3 separate regions of the Homo sapiens genome follow, and regions 2 and 3 are each linked to region 1. The links come from fine-mapping of genetic effects on gene expression. A gene starts in region 1. Each other region holds a variant in brackets. All regions are shown on one strand. Distances are between the middles of the regions.

What was found. PIP is the estimated chance that this variant, and not a neighbour inherited with it, causes the effect. A credible set is the group of variants that fine-mapping cannot tell apart.
Region 2: its variant is the best candidate, but not a certain one, in a credible set for the expression of CEP104 in left ventricle (GTEx, PIP 0.61).
Region 3: its variant is the best candidate, but not a certain one, in a credible set for the expression of CEP104 in regulatory T cells (Bossini-Castillo 2019, PIP 0.56).

Annotation. Positions count from the first base shown.
Region 1 is chr1:3,856,072-3,858,822 of GRCh38, reverse strand. It overlaps CEP104 (centrosomal protein 104), which reads left to right and starts at 1,612. Exons shown (of 22, transcript NM_014704.4): 1 at 1,612-1,934. It overlaps DFFB (DNA fragmentation factor subunit beta), which reads right to left and starts at 1,347. Exons shown (of 7, transcript NM_004402.4): 1 at 1,106-1,347; 2 at 1-105. The coding sequence starts at 1,219. RefSeq lists silencers at 466-515, 1,446-1,945 and an enhancer at 1,126-1,305.
Region 2 is chr1:3,599,682-3,602,432 of GRCh38, reverse strand. All of the region lies in intron 2 of MEGF6 (multiple EGF like domains 6), which reads left to right. Among named protein-coding and RNA genes, the nearest start is that of MEGF6, 10 kb to the left of the region's middle. The variant G/A (reference allele first, on the strand shown) is at 1,364.
Region 3 is chr1:3,808,123-3,810,873 of GRCh38, reverse strand. No RefSeq gene overlaps it. Among named protein-coding and RNA genes, the nearest start is that of LRRC47, 13 kb to the right of the region's middle. The variant G/A (reference allele first, on the strand shown) is at 1,112.

The sequences.
Region 1 (2,751 bases):
GGTGAGCAGCACCAGCTCGGCGTTGTCGGGAACACTGGGGAAGTAATCTTCCGTCAGCTCCGTGCCATCCTCGTACAGGCACAGCCGGGAACCGCGCTCAGGGAGCTGCAGGGACGGGAGAAGCAACAGGAGGAGGAAGGGTCTCAAGACGAGGGCTTTGCATCTGCAGGCCTCACAAACGACCGGAATGAGCTGTGCTTAAAGAAGCAGGCTCAGGCTGCCGCCTGTATGCCACAGTCGCTCCAACGCCCAGGCAAGGATGAGGGAGCGGGAGCAAGGGCGCCTGACTGCGGGCCGTTCTAAAATACGAAGAGTCAGGAAAAACATACATCAGGGGGTGACTGCTGGCTCTGCAGGATTCACCCTTTTTAAATGAGCTCCTGAGGGCGCTTCAAATAGAGCCTGTCTTTGACAGCGCCGCCTCCCTGCTGCCAGGAGCTGAACACCACCATCCCCAGCACACAGCCGCCAGAGCGGTGCTGGCACACGAAGGAGAACGGTTGGTTGCCTCTGTGCACAAGTGTGACCGGCACGTGGCACTGTTAATTTGTTGGAGTCCGGTTCCCTGTTACTCTGCACTGGTCAGTTTTAGGCATTTTATGGCTACTCCCACCCCACCCGCACCGACCCCGGCAATGCACACCTGGTAACCCTAGTACTGGTCTAAAAAGAAAACCAACCTAGAATAAGGTGACGATTGCAATCCCCAGCTGCGAGGGCTGGAAGGGGCCTGCAGAGCCCACCTAGCCAAGCCTTTCATGTTACTCAAGGGGAAGCTGAGGCCGGACAGGCAGAGCAGCCGTGACCCCGCGTGCCAGTACCTGGCACTCTACCCGGGTCTCCTAGCTCTGATGCAGGGCTGTCCTGCCCGAGAGGTGGGAAGAGGGAAGGGGTGATCCAGGTCGTCCCCCAACCCCCCTGCGTTCTGAAGCCACGCTCAGGAACCCCAGGCTGCGGGGGCCCGGGGTCCTAGCGGCTGAGGCGAACGAAAACTACCCGCCCCGGGCGCCGCCTGCACCCTCCGTTTTGGAAGAGGAAAAGCGGCACCTCCTATTCTCCCCACACGCCTCCCCGACGGGCCGTCCCCGCCTAGCCCAGCGGGCACCTGGAAGCGGAGACAGCCCTTGCGCAGCACCTCCTGGCAGCTCCGGCCAGCCACGCCGAACTTCCTCGGGCTGCGCAGGGCCCGCAGCTTCACGCTCTTGGGCTTCTGGAGCATTGCAGATGTCCTCAAGCCCTCTGGGTCCCACAGGCGGTGGCACCTGCTGCCCAGCTGCTCAGATCCGTCCTCGCCCTGGCCGCAGGGGTCTGCACCTGGTGAGCTCTGCAAGCTGGCACAGGCCGGGTGCCGATCCCGGAAACTACATTACCCAGAAGGCCTGGGAAAAGTGAGGCCCGACGCGGTCTTGTGCGCAGGCGTCGCCCCACGGACACCACATTACCTTACTCAGAAGGCTCAGGAAAGCAAAGGCGCGACGCCACCTGGTGTGCCCAGGTGCCGTGGCCCCGGAAACTACACAACCCTGAGGGCCAGAGTAGCGGAGCCCTCCCCTTGTGCGCAGGCGCGGCCTGGGGTGGGGCGGGGTCGCGCACGCGCAGAGGCCCTGGCCCAGGGCTGGGCTTGGTTGTCATGAGAGTGGAGGCTGCGGCCGGGGCTATGGGCAGAGGTGGCCGGGTCTGCTTCTTCCCTGTCACTGCCGCAGCAGCTTGGGGTGCAAGGCGGCCTGGGGCGGCGGAAGGGGCGCCCCCCGAGTTCCGTCTGAGGAAGCGGCGGCTGCCGAGGAAGTCCACGAGAGCCGGGTCCCGCACGCCCCTGGGGTCCGGGTGCTGAGGCGCCGCCTGGCCGCCTCCCCGGGCCGCGGCACCGCTCCGACCCAGCCGCCCTCTCCACCGGGGCCGCGGCAGCGCCAGTCGGGGCCCTTCCCTCTAAGCAGGTACCTTCCGGGCCGCTGCGGCGCCGGCCCAGGGCCGGAGTGGGGAGCGGGGCGCGGGGCGCGGGGCGCGGGCGCCGCGGGGGCGCGGTCCCCACCTGGGAGCTGGGTACGAAGCCTGGGTGCGCGGTGCAAGCGCGGACGGTGTGGAGTTAGATGCCGGCCTTGCTGTCGCCGAAGAGCCGGCGCGGCCCCGTCGTGCCGTATGCCGGGGAGCTCAGCACGGGTGCTGGGACCGCCTGCCCCGGCCGGGACGGCCCATTTAGCGTGGAATATTGTTTTCAGATCCGGCTTTTCCTCTTCTGGATGCGTAGCACATAGGGGGCCAGTTTCAGATGTGTTCTGCTGAGCAAAAGTTTGAGGAAAATTGCTCTGTCCCTATAGAGATTAAAGTCTGATGGTTGGTTGTTTTTTGTTTTGGAGTTTGTTTTGTTTTGTTTGCACTTAAGTTCAGATTTCTCTGAAGCCCTTTCAGTCGCTAAGATGACTTGATCAGAAACCCATAAGCCTTTGAGACGGTCTCGCTCTGTCGCCCAGGCTGGAGTGCAATGGCACGATCTCAGCTCACTGCAGCCTCCGCCTCCCGGGTTCAAGCGATTCTCCTGCCTCAGCCTCCCGAGTAGCCCGACTAATTTTTTTATTTTTAGTAGAGACGGGGTTTCACCATGTTGGCCAGGCTGGTCTCGAACTCCTGACCTCAAGTAATACGCCCTCCTCGGCCTCCCGAAGTGCTGGGATTACAGGCATGAGCCACCGCGCGCAGTCACACTTAAAAGTCTTCTTAAAAAGAAAATCAGAGACAAGTTTTGTTTCCTAGTCT
Region 2 (2,751 bases), 260 kb after region 1:
CCATTCACACAAAGGGCGGCACTGACCACCCGGGAGCTGGGCAGCTGAGGCCAGGACCCCGTCCTGGTCTCAGGGCCACACGCAACCCCTGCCTGAAGCCCTCATCTGAGCATGAGGCCTCTCCCACCCTCAGGGTGGGTCTGCCATGGGGCTACTCACATGCTGTAGCCCTCTCCTGTTTAGCCGAGCACCTGAGTCCTTTGTGAGGGGTGTGTGGAGGAGGAGGGGCCCAGCCCGGGAGGATGCTGGCCACGCAGGAAGGGGAGAGTGGTCTCAGCCTGCCAGGGGCCCGGTGGGAGGCTGCTGCTTCTTGGCCCTAGGGCCTTGTTCCCCAACACACGTGAAACTTTTTACTGCGCAAGATTTTATTTCAACACCGAACTTGAGTGCCTGTGCACACCTCTCCCCCTTTTATAGACTCAGGCTCTGCAGAGCCAGCCCTGCCGCAAAGCGGGTTGTGCCGGGAGCTGGCAGCCCCCGTGTCAGGTGGAGAGTTTCCGTGTGTCTGTGGGAGGGAAGGCAGGAACGCATTCTCAGAGAAGATCGTGGCTAGCTTCTCAGCCTGGGATCTGCGGAGGAGCCGAGGCCCTGCTCTGCGCTGCTCCCTTGGGCATGGGGTCCACGCGGGACACCTGCACCTGCTGTACCTGCTCCAGGGGGCTCTGGCAGCTTTCTGGTCAATGTGTGTTTGCTGCGCAATTCAGATGTGTTCAGAGTAGAGGAGAAAAAAACCGTTAAGCAATAATGGTGGTTCTCACTCAGGGGCAGTTCTGTCTTCCTACCCCGGGACAGTGGAGATGTGGAGTCAGGTTTGGTGACAGGTGAGCTGGGCAGGCTGAGGGGGCCAGGGATGCTGCTGAGCATCTCAGCACACAGGACGACCCCCCGAACAGACGACCCGGCCCAGTACCAGGAGGGCTGAGGTTCAGGGATCCTGAGCCCCCAAAACAAGAGATCTCAGGAGGGCTGAGGTTCAGGGACCCTGAGCAAAAAGAAGAAATCTCCTCTCATTGTTTTCCCCAAAATAGCAGCTTGCAGTCTGTCCTGACTGTCACCCATGCGTGGATGCGGGCCTGCCCTGTGGATGTCATGCGTGCATGGATGCAGGTGGATTTCCCTGCGGGAATTTGTTTGCATCAGCCAGGTCTCCCGCCAACAGCTCGTGGTGGAAGAGCTCTGTTTCTAGAAGCAGCCAGAAGCCATCTGAGCCCAGGGCTGGAGAGAGTGCTGGTGGCCGGGCTGAGGAAGTCCCCTCGCTATGGGGGCATGATTTCTCCATTGTGGTCTCTAGGCTAGCCTGAAGGCAGGGTGGGAGCAGCATTGCCGATGTGCCGGGGTCCTCAGCCTCCTGGCAGGGCACTGG[G/A]GGCAGCCGTGGACAAAGTCCCCCTGCTTGGAGGGGGGGGCACTGGCAGGGGATCCCCTCCCGGCATTACCCAATGCAGGGTGTCCGGGCCTCTTCACCAACCCTCCCTCCCGAAAGGTGGCCATTCTGCCTCAAGGTCCTGGGCTTGTCATGGGGGAGGGGCCGAGGTCCACCTCCGAGGACCCTGGGCTGTTCTCACCTGGCCCCCGCTCCTGGGGGAACCAGAGGCTTCTTACCACCCTGGTGCCGGGGGGATGGGCGTCCTGTGTGCTCTACTGGAACCAGCCCCAAGTGAGGTGGTGACATGTGGCCTGGGCCCCTGTCCCTTTGGGATGCTTCTGGGGCTGTTCGTGGGCACAGGGTGCTCCCAAATCCCACGTTTCCAATTTGTGTCCCCTCCCAAGCTGCTGGAGGCTGAATCCAGCTGTGCAGCCTCGGGGGAGTCTCCTCAGATGCCAGGTCCAGATATCACTCCACGCGGCAAGACTTTGGGTGGTGCCTGGAGCACCGGCCTGAGGCTTGCTCCCTTCATCCCTCCCAGGAGCCAGCCCTGTTCCCCGCCCTCCAGCTCCCGCCTGTCCTCCTTCAGAGCATTGCTTCTCCTCCTCTGCCATCAGGAGTCCCCGTCCCTAACCCTGAGCCCTTGCCCATTTGCCCTCGAGCCCCCAGTGCTTATGACCAGGTTCCCAACTCACTGTGGAACTGGTGGGGACCCCAGCATCCCAGCTGGGCTCTGGGTGCCATCGTGGAGGTGGGCACAGGCCACTCCTCCTGTGCCCACAGGGACAGCTCTGCCACACAGCAGATACCTGGGTATGTGTGGCTGGGCTCAGCAAGGGCAGCGCTGCTCATTGGCTTGGCCACCATTCAGCCGGGGCACTGAGCATTTGAGGCCCCTGGGTTCTGGGGAGATGCAGGGAAGGCAGCCCGGGCTGGGGAGATGCAGGGAAGGGCTGGGCAGGCTCCTGGCGCTGCAGCCCAGGCCGGGGCAGCTGAGGCGGGACCCCACAGCACTGTGGCACTGAGGGGTGACTCAAGGGTGAGCTGGTGCCATGGGAGGCTCGTGGTTTCATCGCTGGTTCCACCCCTACCAGCCTGGCGACGTCAGCCTCCTTTTTCTCACCCGTGAACTGAGCTGACAGTATTTCCTGGGCCTGGGGTCGTGCCTGTCAGAGCCTAACCCTTTCTGGGCTGCCTGGCACAGCCCAGAAACGGGGCACAGAAACGGGGTGCCCACGCGCAGAACAGCCCCAGCAGGGCAGGGTCAGGGGCTGGCCTGGGCTTCCTCAGGCCCTGGAGTGAGGAGCAAGCATGAGTGCTGGCCGGCAGGGCACCACGCACGCCCCTCAGCCTCTACGCACCTCCATCTGCCACCTCGCCAGCCGGGC
Region 3 (2,751 bases), 48 kb after region 1:
GTGCAGTGGTGCAATCTCGGCTCACTGCAACCTCCGCCTCCCGGGTTCAAGGGATTCTCCTGCCTCAGCCTCCCAAGTAGCTGGGACTACAGGCACCTGCCACCACACCTGGCTAATTTTTGTAATTTTAGTAGAGACAGGGTTTTACTATATTGGCCAGGCTGGTCTCGAACTCCCAACCTCAGGTGATCCACCCACCTCGGCTTCCCAAAGTGCTGGGATTACAGGCGTGAGCCACTACGCCCAGCCTGGACCTTTTTTTTTTAATTCCAGAGACAGGGTCTCACTCTGTTGCCCAGGCTGGAGTGCAGTGGTGCTACCATGACTCACTGCAGTCTCCAACTCCAGGGCTCAAGCCATCTTCCCACGTCAGTCTCCTGAGTAGCTGGGACTACAGGCACAAGCCACCACCCCCAGCTAATTTTTGTATATATATGTATAGTAGAGGTGGGTTCTCACCATGTTGCCCAGGCCCCCCACAAACTATTTGATCACCAACATCAGTGTCCTCAGCAACCCATTTGCCTCTGTAATGTGGATTTCACACCTCCTGTGTTGTGGCAGACTGCTGTTACTACTTGAGACCATCATTATGAGACTGAAGGAAGAGGGACAAACATAGAAATGAAAACTTAAAACAAAAGTAACTATTTTAACGGAAGGGTAACACGGGGAAGAAGAAGAGAGCTCCCTGCTTCTAGTGAGCAAAGGCACCGCCCGAGCTTCCACAGCCCTTCCTATTTATTGGGTAGCAGGAGGAGGGAGGAGGAGGTAACGATCGGTCAGCTGCTTAATTGATCACAGGTTCATATTGTTACTAACAGGCTTCAGATGTACCTAATCACAAGAAACACTGTGCTTGAGGCGTGACTGCCCTCAGCATTCCTTCTAGGTGGCAGACGCAGTTTGTTTGCCAACATTCTGCATGTATGAGAAACAGTTTGCTGTTTACTCACGTCGCCTCCAGTGGTATACTGAGTTGATCATGACCCTCACTCTTTCAGCGTGCAACACTGTGTTACTCTAGGTAGCAGCGTCAGGCAGCATTCTGTTTCCTGGTGCTGGGAGGTGAATGTGCCCCACAAATTCACAGGCTGGAAACTCACTGCCC[G/A]GTGCAACAGTATAGACAGGTGGGGCCTGACCATAGGCCCTGCCCTCATGGTTGGATTTGTGCAACAATAAAAGGACTTGGGGCCAGACACAGTGGCTCACACCTATAAACCCAGCCTTTGGGAGACCGAGATGAGAGGATCACCGGCGTCCAGGAGTTCAAGACCAACCTGGGCAACAAAGAGAGACCCCATCTCTACAAAAAATATAAAATTAGCTGGGCATGGTGGCATGTGCCTGTAGTGCCACCTATTTGGGTAGCAGAGGCAGGAGGATCACATGAGCCCTGGAGGTCAAGGCTGAAGTGAGCCATGATCATGCCAGTGCACTCAGCCTGGGTGACAGAGTGAGACCCTGTCTCAAAAAAAAAAAGTGGGCCGGGCGCAGTGGCTCATGCCTGTAATCCCAGCACTTTGCGAGGCCAAGGCAGGCAGATCACCTGAGGTCGGGAGTTCGAGACTAGCCTGACCAACATGGAGAAACCCCGTCTCTACTAAAAATACAAAATTAGCCAGGCGTGGTGGCACATGCCTGTAATCTCAGCTACTTGGGAGGCTGAGGCAGGAGAATCACTTGAACCCGGGAGGTGGAGGTTGCGGTGAGCCGCGATCGTGCCATTGCACTCCAGCCTGGGCAACAAGAGTGAAACTCCATCTCAAAAAAAAAAGTGGGTGGGGGGTCTTGGGTGTGGGATCCCCCTCCACCTTCCACCCTGTGAGGACACAGCCTGCCTTCCCTCTCTCCCTCCAGAGGATGCTTGGACTCCCAGCCTCCACGGCTGTTAGAAAGAAACCTCTGCTTTCTATAAATTACCCTGTCTCAGGTATTTTGTTATAACAAGCAGACTAAGACACCTGATCCTCTTTGTTTATTATTGTTTGAGATTGGGTCTTGCTCTGTCATCCAGACTGCAGTGCAGTGGTGTGATCTCAGCTGGTTGCAACCTTCAACCTCCTGGGCTCAACTGATCCTCCTGCCTCAGCCTCCTCAGTAGCTGGAACTACAGGCACATGCCACCACACCCAGCTAATTTTTACATTTTTGTACAGGGGAATCTCACTATGTTGCCCAGGCTGGTCTGGAACTCCTGAGCTCAACTGATCCTCCCACCTCAGCCTCCCAAAGTGCTGGGATTACAGGTGTGAGCTACTACACCCCCTGAGTGGTCCTGTCTAAAATGCATCCAGTGGCCAGGCATGGTGGCTCACACCTGTAATCCCAGCACTTTGGGAGGCCAAGGCAGGCAGATTACTTGCGGTCAGGAGTTCGAGACCAGCCTAGGCAACATGGTGAACCCCTGTCTCTAGTAAAAATACAAAAATCAGTCAGGTGTGGTGGCAGGTGTCAGTAATCCCAGCTAGTTGGAGGCTGAGGCAGGAGAATTGCTTGAACCCAGGAGGTGGAGGTTGCAACGAGCCAGGATTGCGCCACTACACTCCAGCCTGGATGACAGAGTGAGACTCCATCTCAAAAAAAAAAAAGTGTCCAGTGCTGGGAGTTGCCCCATAAGAAGAGAGTGGCTGGTGCTCAGTGGAGGTGCTCAAGCTAAGGGTGCCCTGTCCCCTGACCCTAGCCACCCTGACCTTGGCTTCTCAGCTGTCTCCTCAACTCTGGGAGTCTGCTGGGCTCTGCCACCCAGGC